Linked DNA regions of Homo sapiens. The protein of the gene in region 1 purifies or fractionates together with the protein of each later gene. This does not show direct contact. Each region holds a gene or a part of one and is shown on either strand. Other genes may lie near its edges.

Region 1 (5,367 bases):
GCCTTGTGGAACCCAGCGGTTACAGTTTCAAGTCCACAGCCCAGTAAAGTCTGAGACCCCAAGGGAGGGAATGAGAGGGAAAGTGGGTGCCTGCGTCTGGGTCCCTCAACCTGCCTGCCTATGTAAGGACCCAGTGGGGCACAGGACAGGAGATCTGGGGCACCAGTATTTGCCTTCAGCGTCAGACGATCTACACAGGACAGGAGGCAGGTGGGAGGACTGAAGGAAACAGCCTCTGAAACGGTCAGTCTGGAGGCAGCAGGCGTGTGGGCCTCAGGGGTTCCCTCCAGGAAGGCCGAGGGAACAGAACCGCAGGGGCAGAGCACAGGTGTAGCAGAGAAGGGCTCAGTGCCAGTTCCTTTGAGAGACGGTCAGGGAGCGGACAGAGGGGGCCCATAGCCGACTAGGGGCGGCTTGGTCATGGGCTCCTCTTTCCTCAGTGGGCTGAGGGGTTAGGTCCTTTGAGGAGCGCTGAGGAGACTGTGGTAAGGGGAAGCGCCCTCCATCCCAGAGGCTTTCCTGGAACAAGTGGGTTGGAAGGACCAGGTGTTTGGGAGCTGCTGGGAGCAGGTGCAGAAGCCAAGGCATTCCCAGATGGGGGAGACTGGGGGTGGCAAGGTGGCTTTTCAGGGATCCAGCCTGCATGCCACCTATGCAGCCATGCTCCGGGGGCGACATCCGCCTGTGTCCTTCAGCTCTTCCTCAGCCTCCACCCGCCACCCGGGAGTCAGTGCCTGGACTGGAGCTCTAGCTGGAGGGCGTCTAGGAAAGGTCCCAAGGGGTGCGCAGGATGACCTGGTGTCTCTCCAGAGTCACCCCTGCTAAAATACTATGTGGCCAGCCCCAAGTCAGTTGCAGGTCATGGTGTTGGGATCTTCCACAAGGCCTCCTGGAGTCGCGCTGGGGGAGGGTGGGGTACTCAGTCTGTCGCAGAGCCCCAGGCCATCCGTCGCCAAGAGGAGCACTCCAGCGCTTCCCTCCTAATGCGTTCTTATCTTGCCGGGAGGAGAACTGGGCCAGCCTTACTCACCCAATCTATGCATGAGGCTTCCCCAACGCGCCAGAAGCCCTTCCTTCGCAGAGGTGGGCTTGCCCCGGCCTGTCCCCGTTCCTCTACCATGGTTAGGGCACAGTGGCCGAGGACTCCGTCCCAGCGCGGCTGAGCCGGAAAGCGATGGCGGCCGGAGGGGTCGGGAGGTTGGTTAGCGCTTTACGGAGCTGCGTGTTCCGTTTCCAAGGGCTGTAGAGCCTTCTACTGGGAGCCACCGTGGATCAGGCCAGGGGTTCGTCAGCTGCATTTGCCGGATCGCATCGCAGCACGCGCACCCACACGCGCACACGCCCTACTCGCAGGAGACTAAGCGCCCCGAAAAGGCGCGTCCCCGGGCGGGTCGCAGCCGGTCCAGGAAAGGGGACAGGGCGCAAGGGCCATTTGGGGAAGGAAAAAGGGGGCGAACCATGACCTTGACCTCATAGAAGGCCGAGGACGTGAAGAGGCTGGCAGATAAGTTGGCGAGGCTCGCAGCGAAAACCCAAAGCAGCCGAGCTCGGAGAGCGCCGTCTCAGCGGGCGAGGGCGTAGCCCGGGGAATGCACGGAGGTCCGTCTAGTCAGTCGGGGCGCGCTTCCTGGAGGAGGAGGAGAAGGACTTGCGGCCGGAGCTACCGGGATAAATGCAGGAGGCGGGGCAGCCAGCGGGCGTGGCCCTGCGGAGGTCCCCGGTCGAAAGGAGGAGACAGGGGCCGGCCGCGTACTTAAAGCGGACGCGGGGGAAGCCCTCCCGGGGTCTGCCTCAGTCGCACAGCTCGGTGGGCTCGTGGCGCAGTCGAACGTTTTCCCAGAAGCTCCCCGGCCCCGTCCAGCCCCTAAACTCGCGACGCTGGGTCTGCTGGGTCCGGCGCGCACAGGCTCGAAGGAGCCGGGTCTACTCGGTTTGGCCCAGCAGCTGCGGGCGGCGGGGAGCAGCCCAGCCCGGCTGGAGCAGCCTCCCGCGGGTGAGGGCGCGGGGCGGGCGGCCGGGTCCCAGCCCTCGGCAGCTCTGCCTACCGCGCCCGGGCGCGGCGTCTGAGCGGCATTAGGACCCAGGCGCGGCGTGGGGGTGTGTCGCCGGCTCCCGCCGCCGGCCCGCCCGAGTCGCCGAGTTTGGGGTCCAGAAGCGCCGGAGCGCCGCGTGAGGAGCCCGGCCGTGAGTGCGCGAGTGTGCCATGGCCGCGGCCACCAGGCGCGTGTTCCATCTGCAGCCGTGCGGTGGGTGCCTGAACCCGGGGGCGCGGCGGGAAGGCCGCCCGGGTCTCCGCCACCGTCTCCCGTCGGGGACCCCGGGGAGAACGCGGATGCCGTCTGCCTGCGCGGGCCGGGGCCGGTGGGCGAGAGGGCTGCGGGATTCCCAGCCGCGGGGAGGAGGGCGCGGGTGCGGGAGGCCCGGGCGCGGCTTCGCGGCCACCGCGCGCTTGGTTTCATTAGGGCTCTGCTGTCGCCGTCTTGAATTTCTTACCAGGTTTGAACAGCTGATGCAGCGGGTCGAGGGCGGGGAGCTCGAAAGTGGGCAGGGCGGAGCTGTGGGGCTCCCAGCGCCCCGAGCGCCGAGCTTTTGGGAGCCTGGCGGGCCGCCGCCTCGGAAGGTCTCATTTTACCTTCCGCCCGGGCATCTTCCCGTCCGGCGCCGCGGTGGGAGCCCCGGAACCCCTGGAGTTTTGGGAGTCCCGGGACCCCTGACCGTGCCCTGCGCGGCCGCAGCGGTTTCTCCCTTGCTCTGACACGGGAGGGCCAGCCCTGGGTCCCCGCCAGGACCCAGGTTTGTACGACCCTTTACCTGCACGTGGGCCGCCGGGACGGAAGCGGAGTGTGCACCGGCCCAACCCTCCCAGACCCTCGTCGCCCACGGCCTGGGACGCGCCCCAGCGCCCCCGCCCCCCACTTCAGGATGCAGCCCCGGCTCCCGCCCCGCGCCTGCATTCACATCCTGCGCCCCGACCCCCGGGGTCTCCGAGTCTGGAGGCGCTTTCCTCTCGTGCACGCGGCCCCTCCTGTCGCTTCCTTCCTCCGACAGCGAGGCACAAACAGCCGGGACCATCCGGGGACCGGCCCAGGGAGGGCGCAGCCTCCCCCGACCCATGTGTCCCTCAGATACTCCTCCCACCCCCAATTGTTCTCCCTTTTGGACCAACGGCTCTGGCTTCCAGGCGGCCGGGACGCGGTCCCAGGACTGGAGACCGTTGCCTGTCGGCCCCCGTGTGACCCGGGGCGCGTGACGGGGGTCGGGGGAACTGCGCCTGCAATGGGCGTTTATGGCCCCCAGGACCGGTCTGAGAGTGAGAAGAGGGATGTGCAGAGAGATCCCCCGCCTTGGCATCCGAGGAGAGAGGGGGAGAGGCCCGCTCGGGCCCGGTCCCTTCCTCTCGCTGCAGCGGGGCAGGGTTTTCTCAGGAAAACCTGGATTAGCGAACATGGTACTGGTACTAACTCGGTGGGAAGACATCCCTGGAACGTCTCTCCTCCTCGCCTCTGGCCCGCCTGGGCAGCCCCTAGCAGATGGGCTAAGCAATTGAATTTCTGAGATTAAGGCTGGCTTCCCCTGCTATGGGGCCCCCTCCCGAGCACTGTCCCCTGCTTCCCTTTCTCCCTAGGGTGGCGTGGGTTGCATCCCTCGGAAGAGCGAAGGAATGAGCCAGGTCGGGGGGCGGGGAGACAGGTGCACACAGGAGGTCCAGGGCTTGGTCCATGGGGCTGGTGACCTTTCTGCTTCCCTTGCAGAAAACTCTCCCACCATGTCGCAGAATGGATACTTCGAGGATTCAAGTGAGTACCTCTCGGGGAGTGTGTGTGTGCAGAGAGAGCTTGTCGGGCAAAAGCCTCCAGGGTGCATAGCCTACCCACCAGAGTCCTGTGGCTTTGCTCGCCTATCTGGGCCACTCTAGTGCTGGAATGCTTTTGGCTTCCACTCTTCGGGAAGCTAGACATGGGCGGATCCCCCGTGGACCTGAGAGGGCAGGCTGCCCATTCTCCTGGGCTACTTGGACCAGGTGAACCCTCTGGGATTCTTACCCAAGGTTTTCTGTGACAATGGCCTGTTATCTGACTAGCCTTGGGCCAAGAATTCTGTGTGCCCCTGTCCCTCTGTCCTCACCCAGCCCTGGAGGGAATATCTGTCGTTGTCTCTTTAAAGAAATATAAGGCCTCTGTGCTGCAGTCCCTCGGGCACCTTCCTGCTGTCCCTGCTTGTACCAGTCCAGCTGTCTTCCTCCTCATGTCTCTGGGCTGGCTTCAGGCTGTGTCCTGTGCCTAGCCCCATGAGTGACCTGACCATTCGAGGGTTGTTTGTAGAGCAGTGCGTAGACACAGGGCTGATGTTCCCTTACCCAGAGCCCTCAGGACATGGGGCTCTGTGTGCTAGGCTGCTGGTGGGCAGGTTACGTATGGGGCTGGGACTAGGACTTGGCATTGCAGGAGCCCCCCAGGAACCTGGTAGTGTCAGCTGGGCAGGTCCTTAATCTAGGGGACCTGAGCACTAAGTCTAAGGTAGAGCTGAGGGCATCAGGGGAAGAATGGGGGAAGAACGGGGCTGTGTGAAGGGCAGTGGAGGGGACTAGTGGGTGCTGGTTGAGGGGCAGAGGGGAGGCTGGGACAAGTTCGGGCCAGGGGAACCAGACAGTTTAAACAAGGCAAGCCTGACCCGGGGAGGAAGGAGTTTATCATGAGCTCCAGAACCAAAGCAGTGAGGACGTCTTTTGTTTTGTTTTGTTTTGTTTTGTTTTGTTTTGAGTCTCGCTCTGTCGCCCAGGCTGGAGTGCAGTGGTGTGATCTCGGCTCACTGCAAGCTCTGCCTCCTGGGTTCACACCAGCCTCCTGCCTCAGCCTCCCGAGTAGCTGGGACTACAGGCGCCCGCCACCACACCCGGCTAATTTCTTTTTGTATTTTTAGTAGAGACAGGGTTTCACCATGTTAGCCATTGTTAGCCAGGATGGTCTCGATCTCCTGACCTCGTGATCCGCCTGCCTTGGCCTCCCAAAGGCAAGGATGTCTTTTGACCTAATATTTCTTCTCTGGGCTCTGGAGGTAGTGCAGGCCTGGGCCTGGGAGTCACCAGTCCCTGGGGACTTTGATGCAGGAGGCACTAGGGCTTCCTACCCAGAAGGGGCCCAGGCTAAACTCAGGACACTGGGGGAACAGGGCCTGGGATGTGCCAAGGAAACTGGCGGCGGGAGTAGAAGTGAGTCAGGGTGAGTCACTCCCTGGCAGGTGCAGGCGTGCTGCTGACCCATCCTTGTTTCTGCACAGGTGTCTGTCAGGCATCAGTGGGGTCTGGGCTATAAGGGCCCCTTTCCTGGGAGTACCTACAAGTGAGGAACCTTAGGGGACCCACAAGAC
Region 2 (5,221 bases), on another chromosome or scaffold:
AAAAGGGAGGGGGTATAATGAGGCATGTCTGATCTCCTGTCCCATCATGGCTGGGGTCCCCTTGGCCAAGAAAGGGATCTATCCAGTCAGTCGACAGACCCCTTACTTAGGATTTTATTTTTAGTTTATATATATATAAATGGCTTCACAACGAATTTCCTGACTTTTAATTTGCCCCTCTGTTCATCCTCCACCCTGTTGCCAGAGAGAACTTTCTAAATCTCAGGATGTCACACTTCTGATTAAAATTGTTCCATGGTTCTCTGGATTTCAGGGTCAAGTTCAGATCCTTTCCTCAGTACACCCCTGCCTGCCTCTCTAGCGCAAATCTTTCACAATCCCCTGACTGGTACCATCATTCTGGTCACACTCAACTAGTCCTCTCGCTGTCCTGTTACTTCTTGCACTTTCTGTTACTCTGTATGGAGTTCCCTTCCCGTTTTAAGGCAGAAGAATATGGTATGGCGGTAGGGAACCTAATGCCCTTTCTCGCTGACTTCCTAGAACTAAATTGAAGGAAAATCCTTACTGTCCACGCTTAAGTGAATAAAGGGCCAGATACTACTCCCTTTGCAAGCCCCAACCTGTTCTGCGCAGATTTGGGAAATTGAAAGTACCTCTGATTGGTTGCTTTTTGTAACCAATCAGACGTTTGCATAGAAGTGTAACTTTGTAACTTCTTCAGCCTCTGATTGGTTGCTTTGCGCAACCATTCAGACTGATTGCGGGCCACCACTTCATTTACATGAAGTGAACTCCAAGTGGCCAATGGGAAACCTCTAGGGGGTATTTGGACCCGAGAAGACTCTGTATCCAGGGCCCTTGAGCTGCTGTCTCACTCTCCCACACTCTGGAGTGTACTTTCATTTTCAACAAATCTCTGCTTTTGTTGCTTTATTCTTTCCTTGCTTTGTGCGTTTTGTCCAATTCTATGTTCAAAACGCCAAGAACTTGGACACCCTACACCAGTAACACTTTCAGCCAACTTTTTGTCGTTCAAGATCAAGGCCCGGACTTACCTTTTCCAGGAAACCTCCCCAGATCCCTTCTGATTTAGGTACCGTCCTCTGTGCTCCCTGTGATTAAATCAGCCTCTACACATATTACACAATCACTATGCTCTGATTTCCGTTTACTTGTTTCTCTTTTGCAATCTGTGTCATATTCCTCTTTTTATCCGCCGTGCCAAGTATGGAGCCTGTCACATAGCAGGCCTCATAAATACTTATTGAAAGAATTAATAATAGACGTAGAACCAACGGGCTTAGTAAGCCCCTGGAGAAAGGAATCAAAGATGTTTCTGAGGCCTCTATATCAGGAAGTGCGGAAATTTCATGGTTTGAGAATGGGCAGGAAAGATCATTTGTGAGCTGTATTTAATGCAAAAGTTGCTCCCCCATCCTGATTTCTTAGCTCACTGGGCCAATCGGCGGAAGGACAGGTGGGGCTCAAATTAGGAGAAAAAAACCACACTTCCCGTCATGCCTCTGGGCACCGCTCCCGTTTCCCCCTCTTTGTCACCGCCTCTTCCCCACGGAAATGAAAGGAGCACTTCCGGGTTCGGCAATAACCTGGAGCCGGCGGCGTAGGTTGGCTCTTTAGGGCTTCACCCCGAAGCTCCACCTTCGCTCCCGTCTTTCTGGAAACACCGCTTTGATCTCGGCGGTGCGGGACAGGTACCTCCCGGCTGCTGCGGGTGCCCTGGATCCAGTCGGCTGCACCAGGCGAGCGAGACCCTTCCCTGGTGGAGGCTCAGAGTTCCGGCAGGGTGCATCCGGCCTGTGTGTGGCGCGAGGCAGGGAAGCCGGTACCCGGGTCCTGGCCCCAGCGCTGACGTTTTCTCTCCCCTTTCTTCTCTCTTCGCGGTTGCGGCGTCGCAGACGCTAGTGTGAGCCCCCATGGCAGATACGACCCCGAACGGCCCCCAAGGGGCGGGCGCTGTGGTAAGTGCGAGGGCAGGGTAGTCTGGCTTGATTTGCAAGAGTTAGGAAGAAGCAGGAAGCGTTGCGAGTCCCGAGGCGTTCCAGAAGCTCAGTGCATTCAGGAATGGGATTAATGAGTTGGGGTGGGGAAGTTGGAGCGGGGAGAGGGGAGGTCCTGAGCGAAGATATGGAGGGAACTACAAGTTTGTTTCTGAAGCGACAATAGGCTGACCTGGAGCTGGTGGCCCCCACCTGTATGCCATGGAAATTGGGCCTTCTTTCCTCTTCTCCCACCTCGGTCTTTTGTTTACCGTAGGCCCCAAGGTTAAAGATGCCGCATGAGATTGTGCCATGACACACATGATCCATGACACACACCACGTGGAGCACACGAGTGCCGGCAAAGAACGTTTCTGCCTAGTTTATACAATCGTATATAGAAATTATGCAAAGGGAGGAGAGCGGTGGTCTTTTTCTTCTTCACTTTGTTCTTTATGAAGAGAAATATCATTATGCTTTTGTAATTTTTTTAAGATGCTGATCTGGAGCTAACAAGTTATTTGTGCCCGGAGCATTGCTGTCCTCTACTTTTTAATCCATAAGTAGTTAAGTATTATTCTGTGTGACCACAATGCAGTTACCACATTTGGGAAATATTACCTAATATAAAATCCATGTGCAAATTTCCATAATTGTCCTTTAAAGCTGCTTTCTCTTCATCTGGGATTCTGTCAAAAAGCATGCATCGATGGGCTGGCGCAGTGGCTCACTCCTGTAAGCCCAGAACTTTGGGAGTCCAAGGCGGGAGGATCGCTTGAGTTCAGGAGTTAGAGACCAGCCTTGGAAACATAGCGAGACCTCATCTCTACTAGAAATCAAAGAAATTAGGCGGGGCGTGGTGGCTCACGCCTGTAATCTCAGCACTTTGGGAGGCCAAGGCGGGTGGATCGCTTGCGCCCGAGAAGTTGAAGCTGCCGTGAGCCAAGATCGCGCCACTGCACTCCAGCCTGGGTGATAGAGCAAAACCTTCTCTCAAAACAAACAAACAAACAAACAAACATAAATTAGCCGGTCGTGGAGGTGCGCTCCTATAGTCCCAGCATAGTCCCAGCTACTCAGGAGGCTGAGGTGGGTTGTGCTTTTGCGCTCCAGCCTGGGGTGACAGAGCGAGACCCTATCTCAGAAAGCATGCATTCAATTTACTGGCCATATCTTGTTTACTGCCTTTTAATCTAGAACAGTTCTGCCCTCTCCTCCCCTTTTTTGTCTTTTAAGATACTGATAGTTTTCAAGAGTCCAGACATGTTTTGCAGCATATATAGGTACATCTAATATGTATATCTATATTATATATCAGGAAGCATTTTACATTGATTTATCCCATCATTGCAGAATTTGTTTGATTATTTGATTAAGGTGGTGTCCACCAGTTTCTCCATTGTAAAGATACCTTTTTTCCTTTCTAATTAAAAAGTGTTCTTTGGCATGATACTGTGACACTGTGTGAATATTGCTCCTCAACAATTTTTCACCCAAAGATCTAGTGATTTTTTTTTTTTTTTGCCTGATGGTTGGACAGTTTACTCTTAAAAAATGTATACCAATAGACTTTCTTAAACTTTTAAAATTGTATAATATACATAAGTGTGTACAAAATGAAACGCATAGCTCAATGATTTATTGCAGAATAAACAACCTGAACAAATAGATTTTAAGGAGAATGTTCTAAAACTAACTTTCAAGCTGTGGTGCCCAGTCATAATATTTGTTGAGAAACTGAGCACAGTAAGCTGGATTCATCCTTCACTTGATTACTGCTAATCATTTCAGTTTATTGGAGTCACAGTACGGTAAGTCTGGATTTAATGATAAATCAAAGTTGTATTTCATATTTCTGAAATTACCTACATGTGGGTTAAAAAGACATAAAATAAAACAGCCTGGAATTTTACAATGTACTTGGATTTTTCCCTCAAATTTTTTATATTTTTTTTTCAAAAGATAATGAAATTAAATTACATAGAGCAGTGTTTTTAGACTTCAGGTAGACCCATTAGTGAGTTGAGAAGTCAGTTTAGTGTAAACACCAGCTATTTTTAAAAAATTAAATAGAAAATGTCAAAATCCATTATATACAGTAGGGTAAATATTTGTGAAACTTTTGTTTATATATCCATGTATATGGATCTCAATGTTAAAATTACGAAGATCCTAGACAAAAAATGTAAAAGCCACTTTTGAATATAAGATACATTTTAATGAGAAAACACATTTTAAGATTCTGCTTTAGTGGTAATAGACATAAGTATTGGGGGGAAAGCAGCAAAGGAAAGATAGAATGGGAAAAAAATGGGGGAAGAAAATGGTATAGGAAAGTTTAATCTAGGACCACCGAAACTAGGGTAAGACTTGTGGGGGAACATGGAGGTGATAAAGAGAGTGGTGTAATCAGAGAGGCAGGTGGCCATTTAATACCTGTCAGCCACATTTTGAGCACCTAGAGTATGCCAGGCCCTTGTGCATGTAGGCAGATTACAAGGCGAATGAGTTTAGTTGTTACTACTATCATGGTTTTATATTTCTTCTTCAAAAGGTTTCTTTAATCCCAACTGGCTTTATGTGATGTTTTACTCAGCTCTGAGACCTACCTATTCGGATTTGAGATTTTTTGCTAAGAATAGGCATATGGATCTCTTGAGAGCAATTAGTTTTTGTTTAATGTTCTTTTAAAATAGATGAAGCCAATATTGCAAGTGTTAAAGGAACACAGACAATTGTAGTTGAATTTCTGTTAAGATTATTTTTTCTAATTAATTAGTCTTTGCATTTTTTTAAAATGTCAGCTGATATTTTTCTATTTATTTCTGTTTAAGTACTTCTTGTGCTTTCCACATGAAAACTATAAGGTGTTTGGACTTCTCATTAAGCATATACATGAAACATGTAATTGCCTTAGAGTTTTCACCTAATGATCTAAAAAAACAAATGGAGGAAGATTAAAATATTTTGAGTAGACATAAAAACCACACAGTCTTGATGCTTAAAAACATGATTTGCAGGCATAGCTTACAGTATTTTTCTTTTTAAATTTAGCAATTCATGATGACCAATAAACTGGACACGGCAATGTGGCTTTCTCGCTTGTTCACAGTTTACTGCTCTGCTCTGTTTGTTCTGCCTCTTCTTGGGTATGTATTATACATATTGCTGCCTTTGATATTCAATTGTTGAGTCAGTTTATATGGAGTGCCTTTTAGGTGTAAGACTTATTAACCTGTAAAGGGTTTAGGGACAAATAA
Region 3 (4,780 bases), on another chromosome or scaffold:
GATGGTCAGGACCATCAGCTGGACGGCATCCCTACAGCTTCATCTGCAGCCCCACTGGGAAGCTTGTCTGGCAACACTCAGCTCACACACCTGTGGCGACCCCACGAGCCACCTCCCCCAAGGACCCCAGAGAAAGCACAGAGGCTTCTGGCCAACCAGTCTGGCTACAGACCCCAGATTTGCTGAGCAAGTTTGCTTCCCCTCCCCAGCCCTACTGCCCCATCACTAAATGCCGGTTTCATAGCTGTTTCCAACTGCCCACTCCTTCCCTGGCCCTCAGAGCCTTCTGGACCCTCCCAGGAAGGTGGTCACAGCATGGACGTGGCCACACCCCGCCTCACTCAACTTTATGTCCCGGAGGGTCCCACTTCTCCCCACCCCTTTTGAAGGGCCTGCAGAACAGCCCCCATGCTCTCTCTGCCTCCTGTCCACCCACCAGTCCATTGACCTCTGCCCCCAATGGCTACCAGCACCCTGCCCGAGGCTCTGGGAGCCTGGAGGGCCAGACCCAGAGTCTGAGGCATGACCGCCAGGGTAATCCCTGAAGGAGGGAAACCGGGAACCTGGCGCTGGCATCTGTAGATGGGGCTGCAAGCCTCGAGAGCTGGGAACCAGGAGGGCCGGAGCAGGAAGGGCTGGCTCCCCAGGGGGCTTTGGACAGCACCTTCTTGGCCTCAGTCCTATGCCCCATGGGATGAGGACAAGCCCTGCCCTGCCAGCCTGATCCCTAAGTTCACGGGAGCCCAACAAACCTGGATAGCCCCCCATGCCAGACACCCATCTTGGGAATGTGCCCCAGCTTCCCTGGTCCCACCTCCGCCCCTGCATGGATGGTGGTGGTGGTAGCTCAGAAACAAGGCCCTCCCCAGCACGCTTGCAATGAAAACCCTTTAATGTTGGGCTTTCTTTAAATAAAACAGAAAGGTTGCAGCTTTCCCATGGTGGCTGTAAGGCAAGAACAGCAGTGAGGGCGGGCGTGTTCTATCGGGCAGTGCTGCAGCCCTTGACTCTGGCTCAAGGTGGGCTTCCTGGAGGCAGCGGCAAGGAGGCAGTTCTGGATGTGCAGGCACAGATGTAGGGGAACAGGCAAGCGGGCACAGGGCCCTGAGCTGACAAGCAGTGACCCCTGCACCCAGCTAGATGGGGCACCCCCTCTCTGGGAGCTGAGGGCATCAGCTGGAGCCTCAGGCTGGGACCAGCCCCAACTTTGCCTTGGTGACTCTGGGCCATTCCAGGCCTCAGTTTCCCCAGCTGTAAGGTGAGGCATTAGGCAGGAGGGGGTGGCCCCAGCCAGTGTCCTAGTAGCCTGGTGTCTCCATTAGGGAGACCTGAGAAGCTGCCAGGAGAGGCTCTGCTAGCGCAAGGCAGGGCCGGCCCAGCAGCTGACAAGGAACATGCTGAATATAGAGGACAGAGGAGTTAAGAAGACGCCTGCCGGCCAGGCCAGAGAGGGGCAGCTCTAAGGGGGTACAGCGGCCTGTGGTGCTGTAGGCCCAGAAAGGGTGGGGATCAGCCCAAGTCACAGAGCATGGCCCTGGTGGGCGGCGAGGGGTGCGAGTGGACAAGGACACCCCTGCAGAGTCCCACCCCCACTCTATTCCCTCCAACAAGGGAACGCCCAGCAGGAAGCCTGCTGTCTTTCCAGGAGCCCCTGTGCCACCTAGTCTGACCCCTCTCAGCCACAAGGCTACCCTCCCGTCCAGCCTGACTGGAGGTAGAGGAGGAGGAGGAGGCAAGGCCGACTGCAGTGGGGAGCCCGGGTGCCCCGTCCTCTGTCAGCAAATGCCTCCCTTCCATCTGCCTCTAGCCCCGGCCTCTGACCACCCAGGCTCTGCCCCAGGCCTGCAACCACCTCAGCGGAAGCCAGAGGGGCTGCCTGGCAGATGCCGCTCTGACCCTTCAGGAGTGCCCACTGCACCTGAATCAGGCCCAGGCCCTGGAGAGCCCAGGCCTGTACCCAGGATGCTCTGGTCTGGCCCTGCCTCGGCCCTTGCAGTGGTCCGAGCCAGGATCTAGGCTCGGGAGGCACTTGTGGGTCCCTCTGCTCCAGGCACCATCCTCCCCTACCTAGGCCCACATGAGTGGCCTCATCGTAGGGCCAGGCAGGACTCTCCTTTGCCCATCCATCCCCACCTTGAGGGCAGAGCTGGGTCAGGATGCCAATGCCACTCCTCCTTCTGCCTAGCGTGGAGCCCAGCACAGAGGGGTATCAATAACTGGGGGGGCCCAGTGGGTGGAGCAGGGTGGGCCAGGCTGGTCAGGAGGCTACTCCAGCTGGAACAGAGTATGGCTGAGACTGCCCATCTGTGGGCAGCCCCCAGGCCCAGGATGGTGGCCAGGGCAGACGGTGTGAAGGTGGCGGTCACTGGTCCTTGGTGACATCACTGAGCCCACTCTCCATGCGGAGCAGCTGGCTGCTGGCCTCGTTGTAGGAGATCCAGTGCTGCAGATCAGCGGGCAGCTCAGGGGGCTCCACCTGCAGAGGACAGAAAGGGGACACCCAGCTAAGCTACGGCCTTCCCACCTCTGGGCCGCTGCCCACACTGCTCCCCAGCCCGTGACCTTCCAAGATCCCCTGCCCCGCCGCCTGCCATGCTTTGCCCATGCCTCCCCAGGCTCTGCACACTTGTGCTACCCCTGCATACCCACCTTGACACAGCCCCGCTTGTGCCTGGCCCGTCTCCCCTAGGGGCCATCCCCAGAACCCAGCCAGAAACCCGTGAAGTTGGCAGGTTGGGAAGGGCAGAGAGGAAATCCAGAGGCCTCAGGGTGACAGGGGACAGAGGGGTGGAGGGCCAGCATGGGAGCCCTCCTCCAGGAAAGTACCAGACAGGGCTCACTGAGTTCTCTTCTTTCTCCAGGGCACCCAGAGGATGGCACTTCATCCCCCAGGGCAGCCTGGGCCTGACCACTCCACTATCAACCCTCTCCACACACACAGCCACCATGTGGCAATGGGAGCCAGGCTCCAGGCCACTCCTGAGGGGTCCACAGCCTTGCAGATGGGCATTGGGAGCTCCCAGGATGAGGGGACAGGCCAGGCACAGGCCCACCCCCACTTCAGGGTGAGCAGCACACAGAGGTGCTCAGAGATAAAGCCCAGACCTTCCCTGCAGATGAGTCGTGACCCCCATGGCAAGTCCCAGCAGAGCTGGGCCTGGACTCTCCCCTGGACCACTCCCCTCCCCACCTAGTTTCAACCATGTGACCAACACTCACCCCAGCCCAGCTCTTCCTCTTTGGCCACATCACCGCAGGCCAGCCTCTCAACATGCAAGACCCAACCCTGGCTCAGCCTGCCCAAACTGCAGCCGCGGTCTTTCCACATCATCGACAGAGTCTCTGCTGTTCTGGGTCCCAGCCTTCACCTCCCACAGGGACCTCACCAACCAGCCCATGCCTGATTTTATCACTCCCTCTTTCCCAGAAAAGCAACCCTGGCTCCCCATCTCCTCGGCCTCCGTGCCCGGCTCTCAGCCTTGGTGGCCTTTGCCTCTGGACTCTAGATGCATGAAAGACATAGAGTCCAGCACCTGGGGACAGAGAGAGATCTAGGCCTTTTAGGGGGTTCCTGACTGTAAACCAAAAATAACATCGGAAGGTACCCCCAACCATCTGAATGAACTTCCTCCAATAGGCCAGGGCCCTCCACATTTAACCAGAAAGACTAGCCCAGGCCATGATAGAAGAGGGTGTGGGACAGGCCTGTTATGCCCTCCAGCATTAACAACACAGACCTTAAGTCCGACAAGAAACATTTATGATCTATTCCCTCTGAAGCCTGCAGCCTGGAGGCTTCATCTGCATAATAAAACCTAGGTCTCCACAACCAGTATCTTAACCCAGACATGCCTTTCTACTGATAATAGCTCTTTCAACCAACTGCCAATCAGAAAACTTTTACATCTACCATGACCTGAAAGCCCCCCTTCCAGATGGCATCAATGTGAATCTTACATGTACTGACAGATGTATTGTGCCTCCCTGAGATGTATAAAAGCAAGCTGTGCCCCGACCACCTTGGGCACATGTTGTCAGGACTGGTGAGTCCTTATCCTTGGCAAAGTAAACTTTCTAAATTGACTGAGACATATCTCCGATACTTTTTGGTTCACATGACTCAACAGAAACAGAAGACCAGGGAGCCGTGTAGCTTTGTGCAGTGCCATAGCTCCTCTGAGCCTCAGTTTCCCCATTCCTGACATGACCTCTCAGTGTCAGAGGCGCTGGAACCAGAGCGACTCCATTTTGAGTGAGGGCTGGGAAATGAGGCTGGGGCCTGCTGGGCTGCATCCCCAGAAAGAGGCATTCCGAGCCTCTAGATGTTTAGTTGTAAAGTAGAGGTTCCTCTTCAAAGACTTTCCTACCGATCTAATTAGGAATAAATAGTAACTTCTCTTAGAAGCAAAATTTATTCAAAGACCTGTGCTAACATTATTAAATATCTGCTAGCAGTAATAAAGAAAGCAATGTACTACTTTAGGTTCTTAGCTCCCACAATTTAGCCTAAATATTTGCCCTGGCATGCTTATACTGGTCCAAGCGGGCATTAGGTCATAGCCTGTTCCTCTTCCTTATTTGAAGGTGTTTTTACCTTTCTCAGCATTCCACAAATTACTTCCTTCCTTTGTTCTCCTCTGCCTTTGCCTCTTTTAAAAAGTTGTACGTTGCTAGCCAATCGGGACAGATACAGAATGTGAGGTCCCATCCCAGTCAATGGAAACCAGAGACGGCAATAGGGTGGACGCGTCAGGTTATAAATGACCCTGTTTCCTTTGTT

The links.
Region 2: the proteins of SLC4A11 (region 1) and TMEM33 purify together in Homo sapiens (affinity purification with mass spectrometry; one large-scale study listed by BioGRID and IntAct). This does not show direct contact.
Region 3: the proteins of SLC4A11 (region 1) and THEM6 purify together in Homo sapiens (affinity purification with mass spectrometry; one large-scale study listed by BioGRID and IntAct). This does not show direct contact.

Annotation. Positions count from the first base shown.
Region 1 is NC_000020.11:3,235,974-3,241,340, reverse strand, and holds the start of SLC4A11 (solute carrier family 4 member 11), read left to right. Parts: upstream 1-2,150; 5' UTR 2,151-2,203; coding exon 2,204-2,246; exon of another isoform or gene 2,247-2,361; intron 2,362-2,477; exon of another isoform or gene 2,478-2,496; intron 2,497-2,591; exon of another isoform or gene 2,592-2,793; intron 2,794-3,151; exon of another isoform or gene 3,152-3,276; coding exon of another isoform or gene 3,277-3,448; exon of another isoform or gene 3,449-3,661; coding exon of another isoform or gene 3,662-3,752; coding exon 3,753-3,797; intron 3,798-5,367. UniProt on the Homo sapiens protein: Multifunctional transporter with an impact in cell morphology and differentiation. In the presence of borate B(OH)4(-), acts as a voltage-dependent electrogenic Na(+)-coupled B(OH)4(-) cotransporter controlling boron homeostasis.
Region 2 is NC_000004.12:41,933,587-41,938,807, forward strand, and holds the start of TMEM33 (transmembrane protein 33), read left to right. Parts: upstream 1-1,842; 5' UTR 1,843-1,898; coding exon 1,899-1,943; intron 1,944-5,015; coding exon 5,016-5,110; intron 5,111-5,221. UniProt on the Homo sapiens protein: Acts as a regulator of the tubular endoplasmic reticulum (ER) network by modulating intracellular calcium homeostasis. Mechanistically, stimulates PKD2 calcium-dependent activity. Suppresses the RTN3/4-induced formation of the ER tubules.
Region 3 is NC_000008.11:142,733,022-142,737,801, reverse strand, and holds the end of THEM6 (protein THEM6), read right to left. Parts: intron 2,477-4,780; coding exon 2,363-2,476; 3' UTR 875-2,362; downstream 1-874.